3 separate regions of the Homo sapiens genome follow, and regions 2 and 3 are each reported to be linked to region 1. The links are microRNA targets in miRTarBase. Many come from high-throughput screens and were not tested one by one. Region 1 holds a microRNA gene; each other region holds the end of a gene's coding sequence.

Region 1 (4,065 bases):
CTTGCTCTTGGCTAAGAGGCTGGTTCAGTAATGGCTGTATCCAGGGAAGGATTGGGTTGGCCATTTGGTTCTTAAATCTACAACCGATTAGGCCTGCCAAGCTCTTGCATTTGAGAAAGTAACCTCCTCTTCTGTTGTACCCCAGTTCCTGGTGGCAACTCAAGGGGTCCCAGAGGCCTGTTGGGGAGGCTTCATTATTTTTCTCAGCTGGTAACTGAATTTCTGTAGAGGCTCTTTAACAATGATGTGAAATGTGGGGTTTCTCTCTGATAAAGCCAGTGGAGGAAATGGTTTTAGAGCACAGAGCCTTTCTTAGTACCTCTCAGATTCTCACAGATGCCCTGTCTTTGGTATTAAGGATAATTAGACAATACAGGGTCCAGTCATTCATAGTACAGTAAAAAAGTCCCTTCAAGTCCCCTGGAGCAGCTCTTTGCCAACAGTATTTCCATCTCACCCAGGCTCCAGGGTCTAATCTTCTTCTTCATCCCATGAAGTATGAAATACATTTTTTTGCTTTTTATTATAGTTGGAGCTAACATGGAGATTTTCACATACAGCTTAATTAAATCACTTCAGGCATATCAAAGAAAAACAAATGCAGAGTAGCGCACAGATTTTCTGAGTGCATCCTTCCTAACTCCAACAGAGCTGCCACCAATTTGGCAACCTGTAGGGACCTGATTCCATTTCTTCCACTTCAGTCACGTCTAAGGTGAAAGCCTTAGGCTAAGTTCCACAGATATCTAGCTCCACAATGATGTGGGCAGAGACCGTATTAAGTCTAGTGGGATCCTCTTCCCCTTTAAGAAGCTGCTTCTAGCATTTTCTCTGGATATAAGCACCCAAGGCATTTCCTGTAACTCTGAGCTCCATCGAACTTCCTGTGCCCCATGGTCATGCTGATCCTGGCCTTGGGAGAGAAAGACATTTCTGTATCCTTGTTTCTTCCCTGAATGTCTGTCACTAGCTTCCAGATATGGTCCTTACTTGCCTCTGTCTCTTGCTCCTGGTTGATTTCTCTATGCTCTGTTTGAGATGCCTAAAAAAGTCACTGGTTCTTCCCTTGGGCAGTGCTTGTCTTCTGCTCTTGGTTTAAGCATCTAGGTCTTGACTCACCAGTGGTCATGACATTGGGGGTGATGCCATCATTCCCTGTGGCCTCTCTACCTTACAAAGGTTCCTTATTTTCTTCCTATTTCAAGACTTTTGTGTGGTGAATATTCCTATTCCCTACTTCTTACCTAAGCTGGTGTGTTATTTAGGTGTCTTCATGTGTTTAGGTCCATGGTTCTCAAACAGGGGGATGTGGGGAAAGAGTTTTGCCCCCAAAAAGACATTTGGCAATGTCTGGAGGCTTTTTTTTTTTTTGAGACACGGTCTTGCTCTGTCACCTAAGTTGGAGTGCAGTGGTGCGATCTCAGCTCACTGCAGCCCCAACATCCTGGGCTCAAGCGATCCTCCCATAGCAGCCTCCGAAGTAGCTGGAGCACAGGTGCACACCACCACGCCCACCTAATTTTGTTTATTTTTTGTTTTTATGAAGACGAAGTCTTACTATGTTGCCTAGGCTGGTCTCGAACTCCTAGGCCCAAACAATCCTCCAACCTCGGCCTCCCCAAATGCTGGGATTACAGGCATGAGCAACTGCACCAAGCCTGGAGGCATTTTTAGTTGTCCCAAGGAGGGGCAACTCCTAGAATCTAGTGCACGGAAGTGAAGGATGCTATTAAACATCCTATAAGATACAGAATAGCCCCCAACAACAAAGAATTATCTGGCCTATGATGTCAATAATATTGAGTTTGAGAAACTCTGGTCTTAGAGAAGAGGACCTAATCTTAATTCTGAAAGTAGGTTTATCTGATGTGTAGGTAAATCTGTTCTTTGCAGTGACTGGTTTAACAATAAGTGTATGATTCACTCTAGGCCAATGAAACACAAGAAGTTGCTGAGGGCTTCTTAAAAGGTCCTTCCCTCTGGTGCTGCCAGGTGAAGGTGTGAGCCTTGACCCATGTCACTGCCAGCCCTGGGAGTAAATTGAAGCCAAGGGAATGGCAGGGAAATGGACCAGAGCCACTGGACTCATCAATCCTGAAGTACATCTTTTGGCTCTACTTCCAGAGCTAGGAGTCTCTTTCTTGATTAAGCAGGTTTGAGATTTTTTTTTTCTTGTTGCTGTGGTTACCTACAGCCACATGAATCTCAATGATGCATCTTTACTCTTTTTGGTCACTCATTTGTTTCCGCTTACCATCAGAAGGGTACCTCCAGCTCTTAGCTAATTTTCAGAGCCTCCCTGAACCTGGACAATGATCTGGCTCAAGTCCCAGCTTTGTCCACTTATGCTTCAATGTTCAACAGACCCTTCTGAATGCAGAATTCCTTCAATAAATATTATTATAATAAAAAGACTTCACTCATACTATAAAAAATAACAGACTAACCATTCAGAGGCTACCCAATGGGATTCAATCGATTGGATGTAGGCCTAAGTTCAACTAGGCCTAAACTAATCACAAAACTTGGAGGCACAAAACTTTTTTCCTGTAGGAAAAAAGATGACATCCAGAGAGCAGACAAATTCATTTAAACATCTGACGACTAAAAGGGAGAGGAGCATTTAGCACTTTAAAGCCACGAGAGCAGGTGTTCTTTTATAGTCTTTTATATTGACAGCTGAATGTTTATAAAACAAAGTGCTTGGGTGGCTGGAAAAACAGGCATGCTGACATTAAGGAAGACAAACATTAAAAAGAAAAAAGCAAACTCTCCAGCAAAGGGAGCAATGATCCTGCTGGAGGGGGGTAGGGGGTGAGTTAAAGTCTTTCTAAGATTCTGTGGCCTCATTTAAGTGTGGAAAACACACACCTAAACATCTGCTATGTATGACTTAAAAACCAAGTTCCACTTCATATTCCTCTTTAACCAAATTCTTGCTCTATGCCAAATAACCTATGAGCACTGAGTTTAGGTTTTTCAAAAATGAGGACATTTAAATTTTTAATTTTGTTAAAAAGATCAGGTCATTGAATTCTTTTGTTCAAACTCTCAGAGTGGAGGAAAAGGCATAGTACAATTGCTGGATAGTCAATTACTCTGGATTCCCCCAAGTTATTATACTCTTTATTATACTTGCTAGGGTCAAGTATTTCAGTTTTCTAGACACTTAAGAAAGCCTCCATCTTAGTTTGGGAAAAAGTAAACCATGTATCAGAGTTGGCACAATACATTCTTACTGTTGTTCACAAATCAGCTTTGGGATAGGACAGGTATGAACAATTATGTCCTAGAAAAGGTGAAACTTTTAAAAAAGATGAATGGCTGACCAATGATCTGTGATTACAAGGGACACTCCTAGTAAAGGTTTTTAGTGTGAGCTCCACGTCTCAATAATTATCAACTACAGCAGCAGTCTCCAACATTTTTGGCACCAATATTTAGGGACTGGTTTCATGAAAGACAATTTTTCCACAGACGGGGGTGGGGATGGGTTATGGCATTAGATTCTCATAAGGAGCACGCAACCCAGATCCCTCGCATGCACAGTTCACAATAGGGTTTGCGGTCCTATGAGAATCTAATGCTGCCACTGATCTGAGCGGAGGTGGAGTTCAGGTGGTAATACTTGCTCACCTGCCACTCATCTCCTGCTGTGCAGCCCAGCTCCTAACAGGCCACGGATCAGTACCAGTCCACGGCCTAGGGCTTGGGACCTCTTGAACTATAGAATTGGTTTTCACTAGCTTTGCTTTCCAACTGCAGGCTAGACTACTCTGCGGGATAGGAATCAAGGGAGGGTTTGTAAATTGCAAAAGGCAGAGAGGTAAAAGAAGCATGAAATGGGATGTTGCCACACTATGCGACACCATTTTGAATTGAAACCAAGCATTGCTCTTACCATCATTGGACCCAAAGCTTCCATCAATGGATTTTCTCTGAAACCTGCAAACAAGCACATACACATGCTCCTAAGACAGTGAAAACCTCAGCATTTTACATTTGTTCCTTATAGATTTTGTTGCGGATTTGTCTACTAGGATCTCTTCAAAACATGTCTTTGGG
Region 2 (4,065 bases), not on the chromosome of region 1:
TAAGCTCCTGGGTGGTGCCCATGCTGTCTGTCCCTGAACTGCAGCTGGGCAGTGCCGGGATACGTTCTCACTTGTTTTTCTGAGTCTCAGCTTCCTCATCTGTGAAGTGGCAATTAGAAGCCCTTGTAGGGTTGCAGTGAGAATTGAGAAAGCTGTGATTTGAAGTGCCAGTGCCATGCCTGGCATACAGAAGGTGACCAGGGGGTGGTTCTCTCCTCTCTGAGGAGCGGTCAGGGTAGTATGGGGTGGAGGGTTTGAGGGTGGAGGAGCCTGGCAGCCATGGCCTCACCTGGCACACCTCCTTGTTCCCACAGAAACACCTGGCTGGGCTGGGCCTGACTGAGGCCATTGACAAGAACAAGGCCGACTTGTCACGCATGTCAGGCAAGAAGGACCTGTACCTGGCCAGCGTGTTCCACGCCACCGCCTTTGAGTTGGACACAGATGGCAACCCCTTTGACCAGGACATCTACGGGCGCGAGGAGCTGCGCAGCCCCAAGCTGTTCTACGCCGACCACCCCTTCATCTTCCTAGTGCGGGACACCCAAAGCGGCTCCCTGCTATTCATTGGGCGCCTGGTCCGGCCTAAGGGTGACAAGATGCGAGACGAGTTATAGGGCCTCAGGGTGCACACAGGATGGCAGGAGGCATCCAAAGGCTCCTGAGACACATGGGTGCTATTGGGGTTGGGGGGGAGGTGAGGTACCAGCCTTGGATACTCCATGGGGTGGGGGTGGAAAAACAGACCGGGGTTCCCGTGTGCCTGAGCGGACCTTCCCAGCTAGAATTCACTCCACTTGGACATGGGCCCCAGATACCATGATGCTGAGCCCGGAAACTCCACATCCTGTGGGACCTGGGCCATAGTCATTCTGCCTGCCCTGAAAGTCCCAGATCAAGCCTGCCTCAATCAGTATTCATATTTATAGCCAGGTACCTTCTCACCTGTGAGACCAAATTGAGCTAGGGGGGTCAGCCAGCCCTCTTCTGACACTAAAACACCTCAGCTGCCTCCCCAGCTCTATCCCAACCTCTCCCAACTATAAAACTAGGTGCTGCAGCCCCTGGGACCAGGCACCCCCAGAATGACCTGGCCGCAGTGAGGCGGATTGAGAAGGAGCTCCCAGGAGGGGCTTCTGGGCAGACTCTGGTCAAGAAGCATCGTGTCTGGCGTTGTGGGGATGAACTTTTTGTTTTGTTTCTTCCTTTTTTAGTTCTTCAAAGATAGGGAGGGAAGGGGGAACATGAGCCTTTGTTGCTATCAATCCAAGAACTTATTTGTACATTTTTTTTTTCAATAAAACTTTTCCAATGACATTTTGTTGGAGCGTGGAAGAAGATTGGATCAGGAGATTCTTACACCATTCTTCCCAGGGGACAAGGTCTCCTGTTAAGGCAGACTCGCTACTGATGGCTCATATCAGGCCCTGGAATGCTGGCAGATCGCTGGCAGATCACTGTGCAGACAGCGCCAAGTGGCAGGTGCATTCCGTGCTGACCCGGGAAATGGTTCTGGCTCTGGCAGCCCTGGAGAAGTAGCAGCTGCAGGACCTGAATGAGAGCACTGGACCTGGAGCCAGTCTTCAGCCTCTTCGCCTTTCTTTCTTTACCCTTTTTTTAAGATGTGAATCTTGCTATATTGCCCAGGCTGGACTCAAACTCCTGGGTTCCAGCGAACCTCCTTCCTCAGCCTCCTGAGTAGCTGGGACTACAGGCAGGGCTATGGGCATGAGCCACTATGCCCAGCTCCCCTAGCCTTTCCTTGCACGCTGACCTCATGCTACATCCAGGGCTACAGGTACAAACTCAGGCACACATTTAGTAAGTTGCCTGGCTTTGGGCTGGGCTTTGGAAGGAGATTGTGGGGATCCTTGCCCTTAGGTGGCCCGAAGTGTTGGATTTGTAGCAGGGGAGGAGGAGGCACCCAACACGGTCCTTTTTGACACAGTCCTCCGGTTGGATGCCTCATGGTCCTTAGGGCTCCTGACACCGTACCTTAGGGAGAGAGAGGGATGCACGGAACAGAGCCAGTGGCCAGGGAGGCAGAGGAGCAGAGGATATTGGGCTGGAGGCCCATTTCTGCTGCCTGCTGGCCTTTTAACCTAGGACAGGTCATTTTTCTCTCTGGGCACGTCCAGCTTTCCTCTGCCAAAGATTGTGACCTGGGGGTTGTTGGTTCAGGAAGGGACCCCTTACCTGGCTGAGCAATCCAGCAGTAGCCACCAAGATGTACATGGGTCTGCAGAAGGGCCAGCTGATTCACTCCCATCATTGCCACGACAGAGTTTCAGCAAGACTGCTCAGAGTCCCAGGGCCATCCTGTGCTTCGGCTCAATCATTCAGATCTCTATCCTCAAGGGGCTTTGTCTAGAGGTGGAGACTTAGGGATAGGGTACTCAGTGCTCACTGTGTTCCAGGCACCTGGATCATTCTGTTCCAGGTGTGCCACGCTTGTCCCCCTGCCTCAGGGACTTTGCACTAGCTGTCCTTTCTGCCTGGCAGGCGGTTCTTGTAGATGTTTGCAGGGTTGCTTTTTGTCATCCAGGATTCAGCGTAAACGTCTGCTCAGAGAGGCCTTCCCTGACCACCCTACACAAGCAGTCCCTCTCCCACCTCAGTTTCTCTACCATGATTTCTCACTTTACTGACTCCTTAGCACTATGAAATTACCCACTTAAGACTTCCCTGCCTGCCTCCCCTCTTAGAATGGAAGCTCCATGAAGAGAGGGTCCATGGCTGTTTGTCTATTGCAGCAAATCCTGCACCTAGCTTTAGCATCATGCACATATCGAGGAAGGCTCCCAGGAGGAGGTGATATGGGGGCTGCTTTAAAGGGTGAGTAGGCATTTCTGGATCAGAATAATGCTTTGAGTGCAACCAGCTGGTACGCCTTTGTGTTTTGCTCTTCCTATGTGCCAAATACTTAATATGTACAATTTTATCCAAGCTTCCTAACAGCTTGGCTAGTTAGGTAGGGATTGTCCCCATCTTACAGGTGAGATAACAGGCTGAGCAGTTAAGTGAGCTGCCTGAGGCCCTACAGTCAGTGGGGGCCGAGCTGGGACTAGATCCTAGTCGGTTGGGTAGTTGCTTCGCCACATAGGAAGGGCAGGAGAGGCCCCTAACACAGTGCCTGGAACCCAGCACTGAGCACAGATTCTAGTAATGAAGGCATGTTAACTTGCATACGATCTGTATCCATCTCTCTTAATCCTTGCAATAGCCCCGTTAGGTGGGAAGTCATCCTAACTTTACAAGGTGTAGCTCAGAGAAGGCAGAGACTGGGCTGGAACCCAGGCCTCCTGGCCCTGAAGTTCAGCCTGTGACAGCTCCCCCACCAAGTGGGAATGGGCAGTAAAATAAGCCAGGCCCGGGTGTGGGGCCACCGAGAGGACCCAAAGGGGGTCTTGAGGCCACGCTCCTCCATCCTGACTCAGGTGGGGAGGGTGGTAAGAGGTCTGTGCTGTTGCATCTCAAACACCCGTCCGTGAGGACTGGAGTTGCTGGTGTGTGAGTGGCAGTGCAGGTGGCAGAGGTGGGTGAGTTAGGGGTGGGGTGGGGTCTAGAGGTTGGTCCAGCCAGTGTTGCTGCCCCCCAGTGCCCCATCACTGCCCTGTGTGGAGCTTTCCTGCTGCCTGGAGGCCATTGGAGGGATTACCCTGTTATTCTCACCCTGGTGCTTGTTAAAGTCTTGGGAGATAATAAGCCTGTTGGATTGTGCGGGTCCCAGATGTGGATGCGGATTAGCCTTCTCCTGAGTGCCTACTGTGTGCCTGGCACTGCCATGTATGATTTCATTTACTTTTCAGACTTCCCTCCAGAGTAGCTATTACTGCTCCATGTTATGGACAAGAAAACTGGGGCTCAGAGAGGGGAAGTGACCAGCTCAAGGCCACCCAGCAGGACAGTGACAGAGCTTGGCTCACATGGGAACCCAGGTTTCCTGGCTGTAGAGGAAGGAGAAGTTACTGACGTGTGTGAGCTCCATGCTCCACAGTTTGCAGGGGGCGGTCACCCATCTTTTCCCCAGTCCCTGCAGCACGGGGCTTGTTGTCCTGACACTCC
Region 3 (4,065 bases), not on the chromosome of region 1:
TGGTCCAGAGAGGGGCAGGTTGGGTGGGTGCAGCAGGGGAAACTCCCAGGGCTCCTGACCCCGGCTCTCCACCTCCCCCTCGGAGGTCAGAGGCCTCTCCAAACCCCTCTCCGCAGGCCCAAGCCCTTCTCTCTCTGCAGAGGGCTGGCCACTGGGCCCCTGAGCCTGCCAGGAGCTGCCAGGGCCTCACCTTGCCTGAAGGCTGGATGTTGGGGTGTGGGAGTGTGCCAGAGCAGAGGGAGCTGAAGTGGGAAGGCCGTGTCTGCAGCCGATGTGGGGCTGGTATTCCAGGCCCTCAGGCCTCATCCCGAGGGTGTCACTTGGTCACGTGACTGACTCCTTGCACCTCAGTTTCCTCATCTATAAAATGGGGTTCGCCTGAGGATTCTTAAGGTTTCTCTAGGTCATGGTGTGTGGCCCAGAATAGCACCTGGTCAGTAAGATCTTTCAGCATTGCTGTTTGTTCCACAATCACTGGGTGGCCTCCTGGCACCAGGCCTGGCCCTGCGCCTTGGGGTACAAATACACCTTACCCCTATCCCCTGGTCTACATCCTCTGGGGACTCCAGTCCTAAGTGGAAGACAGATGAGCTCCTGCCTGAATTTTGGCGGCGGCTGCATGGCACTCTCTGCTGTGGATGTGGATGTGCATGTGTACTTTTTTTTTTTTTTTTTTTTTTTGAGAAGGAGTCTCGCTCTGTCGCCCAGGCTGGAGTGCAGTGGCGCGATCTCGGCTCACTGCAAGCTCCACCTCCTTAGTCCACGTCATTCTCCTGCCTCAGCCTCCCAAGTAGCTGGGACTACAGGTGCCCCCCACCACACCCGGCTAATTTTTTTTTGTACTTTTAGTAGAGACGGGGTTTCACCATGTTAGCCAGGATGGTCTCGATCTCCTGATCTCGTGATCCACCCGCCTTGGCCTCCCAAAGCGCTGGGATTACAGGCGTGAGTCACTGCGCCCGGCCAATGTGCACGTGTACTTAATCAGTCCCCCACAGCTGGACATGAAGGCTACTTCCATTGTCTCACGGCTATTGCTGTAACTCAATGGCTGCCCACAACCCTGCTATTTCCTTGGGCTCAGTTCCTAGAGGTGAGGTTGCTGGTTCAAAGGGTCTGCATGTTTTTGAGGCTCTGCCTTCCAGAAAGGTCTTGTATAGGCAGCTGGGGTGATGGGAGTTCAAAGTGCTCAAAGGTTCAAAGTACTTCGAAGCCTGAGAAGGGCCATGCGGCCCTGGAGAAGCAGCATGCGTGGGGCCCAAGGCCAGAAGGATCTGAGTATGGGACAGGTGGAAGAATGGTTGGGGGGCCATCGCTGGGCCTTGGCAGGGTGCCCCGGGCTGGGCACGGAGGATGCCTCTCCTAGGGCAAGTACTTACATGGACCCCAAGTTCCAGGGGAGGTGGCTCGGGGTGGACGTTGAGGAGGAGGACAGTGAGTAGCATGAGAAATTAGGCTTTAAAAAAAAATTTAGACAATGTTTTTTTCTGATTTCAAAGGCTTGTGTGCTCGTAAAACTTTTGAGAAATATAAAGGAGTAAAAAAGTCACCCATAATGGCACCACTCAGATAGGACCACTGTTAACATTTTGCTGTGTCTTCCAGGATTTTTTTATGCATTTATATATTTTATATATTTTTAAACAAAAATAGTATCATGCTATATACATTATTTTATAAGCTGCTTTTTCTCCCTATCACACAGTATGTCTTTCCTCATCAGTGCATATAAATCTGCCTTAATTCTTACACAGGCCGCATGGCATTCTCTGCTGTGGACGTGCATATGTATTGAATCAGTCCCCCACAGGTGGACACGAAGGTTATTCCCATTGTCTCGCAGCTCAATGTCTGCCTGCAACCCCGCTATTTCCTTGGGCTCAGTTCCTAGAGGTGAGGTCGCTGGCTCAAACGGTCTGCCTATTTTCGAGGCTCTGCCTTCCAGAAAAGTCATGCAGGCAGCTGACCCTCCCCACAGCCAGGGTGGTGAGGCAGGTGGGCTGGGGGTGGCATAAGCCTGGGCTGTAGTGCACTCTTATTCTCCCCGCTTCTCTCTCTCTCTCTAGGGCTGAACCCATCAGAACCACTGTCTTCCAGTACCCCGTGGGCTGGCCACCAGTTCAGGAGCTGCCTCCATCCCTGCGGGCACCCCCACCTGGGGGGTGGCCTCTGCAGCCCAGAGTCCAGTGGGGCTGAGCCCCTTGCCCCCGACTGACCCCCACGTGGTCACTTTTCTCATCAGTCACAATAGGAAGCCAAGCCCGGTTCCTGCTACGCCCCATGGAGGCTCCGAGACCATCTGCCCAGCCTCACTGAGGCTCAGGACACGGCCACACCAAGTGCAGCCCTCGTCCTGGGTCTGCACCGGGCAGCTCTCCCCTCACTCTCCTCCACCTGCCCCCCTGCTTCTTAAGAAGATGGGGGAGAAAACTTCCAAATGTTTATAAAGAAAGTCTGTCACCACAGTGGTCTGGCTGTGTTTCCCTACACTGGGTGCTCTGAGCTCTGTTCTCCAGCCCCTAGCAGAGGTCGGGCAAGGAGGGAATCAGATGAGATTTTCCCCAGGTGACCCACGCTCACTCCCTTCTCCCTTGGGACCAGCAGAGGTTCAGCACGGCCAGGCAGAGGGTGTGCCAGGGTGGCTGTGCCCGTTGCCTGGTAAGAAGTGGCTCTAGGCCCAAGGAGCCCAAGGGCTCCATCTGCCATCCCCGCCCTGGAAGAATCCACAGCCCCCATGTCTGCCCATGCTGAGCTGCTGCCCAAGTATTTGGGATGGCACAGCTGGGGCATGGGAGCGGGGTCTCCAACCTTGAGGGCGTAGAGAAGTGGGAGGACAGGAGGGCAGGCCCTGGGCTGAGAGAGTGGCCTGGCGCAGCCTCTTGGCACTGACAGTGTGGGGCTGTGCCAGTTTCTTGGCCCAGGAGGTAGTACAGGGGCCCTCCCAAAGTTCAGCCCTGGAGGAGCCCCCTGGCTGGAGGCTGCTCAGAGCCTTCAGGCCCCAGCTCTGCCTCCTTCCTCAGCTGGACTACAGTTCTAGGCTCTAGGCTGGGGTGGTGGACAATGTGGCCTTGGTAGCTGGGCCTCTGGTGGGAGGGCCAGAAGGTGGGGGGCTGCAGGGCCACCTCAGATGCCCATCCTCCACGAGCTTCTGCCTTTCCTGAAAATCCCTGTGGAAGGAAGAACTGAGGCCAAGTCTCGGGGCCCTGAGCCTCGGGTTCCTCACCTGTGAAATGGGCTGGCCCAGCAGGTACATGGAGAAAAGGGGGTCTGGGTTGGGGTCCAACGAGGGTCAGAGGAAGGGGCCCAAGGAGAAGACCAGGGGCCTCCTCAGGCTATGCCAGGCAGCAAGGCCCAGGACACCCTGGCTTCCCACCCTCCCCCAGGAGAAGGCTTTCTGTCCCTGCCTGTGCCCTGTGCCCTGGGCAGACCTCAGGGACCAGGGCTGGGTTGGCTGTGTGGCCCCAGATAGGCTGCTGTCTCAAGGCACAGGGTGCCCGCTCCTGCCCAAGGGACCACAGCAGCGACTGGGTCCTGGGGGTTCCTGTGCAAATCCCTCCTTAATTTCCCAGGAGCCCCTGGATGGTAGGAAGAGTGAGTGCTCCTTACAGGCCAGGGTGGGGACAGGGTGGGGCTGGGGACCATCCTCAGAGCCACCACCCGGCCCTCCACAGCCAGGCCACAGCTCCAGGTGAGGACCGTGGGTGGGTGGGGAGGGCTCGCTGGATACCCAGGCCCTGAAGTACACGCAGATGGCGGCCCAGGGAGCCGGCCAAGGGAGAGGTCTGCAGGCGGCGGTGGTGTGGGGCGGGCCACGGGCACCGCATGCGGTGGATGGGGCATCCAGGTGGCGTCTACTTCATGCCACTGCGCAGCACCTGGTTGGCCGCAATGAGCATGACACTGATGATGAAGGCGATGGCGAAGGCGCAGATGAGACTCTTGCGCACGCAAGTCTGGCGGATCTGCTGGTTGGAGCAGGCTGTGGCCGCCCGCCGGGAGCACCGGGGAGACAGAAGGGGACATCAAAGCGATGGAGTCAGGAGCCGCCTGCCCTTCGGCACATGG

The links. Region 1 holds the annotated microRNA hsa-miR-4446-3p (CAGGGCUGGCAGUGACAUGGGU, at 2,011-2,032, opposite strand). A microRNA usually pairs through its seed, bases 2 to 8, with sites in the 3' UTR of a target mRNA and lowers its output. Matches are read on the target gene's strand: a 7mer-m8 pairs with bases 2 to 8, a 7mer-A1 pairs with bases 2 to 7 and ends in A, and an 8mer does both.
Region 2: miRTarBase lists SERPINH1 as a target of hsa-miR-4446-3p. Seed matches in the 3' UTR shown: 7mer-m8 at 978-984.
Region 3: the mRNA of CABP7 is a reported target of hsa-miR-4446-3p. Seed matches in the 3' UTR shown: 7mer-m8 at 3,439-3,445 and 8mer at 2,064-2,071.

What each region holds. Positions count from the first base shown.
Region 1 is chr3:113,592,885-113,596,949 of GRCh38, reverse strand. It overlaps MIR4446 (microRNA 4446), which reads right to left and starts at 2,074; the gene lies at 2,008-2,074. It overlaps SIDT1 (SID1 transmembrane family member 1), which reads right to left. Exons shown (of 25, transcript NM_017699.3): 10 at 3,902-3,945.
Region 2 is chr11:75,571,467-75,575,531 of GRCh38, forward strand. SERPINH1 (serpin family H member 1) reads left to right here. Exons shown (of 5, transcript NM_001235.5): 5 at 315-1,317. The coding sequence ends at 617. Among named protein-coding and RNA genes, the nearest start is that of MAP6-AS1, 9.7 kb to the right of the region's middle.
Region 3 is chr22:29,729,356-29,733,420 of GRCh38, reverse strand. It overlaps CABP7 (calcium binding protein 7), which reads right to left. Exons shown (of 5, transcript NM_182527.3): 5 at 1,588-3,979. The coding sequence ends at 3,852. ZMAT5 (zinc finger matrin-type 5) reads left to right here. Exons shown (of 6, transcript NM_001003692.2): 6 at 2,067-2,465. The coding sequence ends at 2,196. Among named protein-coding and RNA genes, the nearest start is that of CABP7, 11 kb to the right of the region's middle.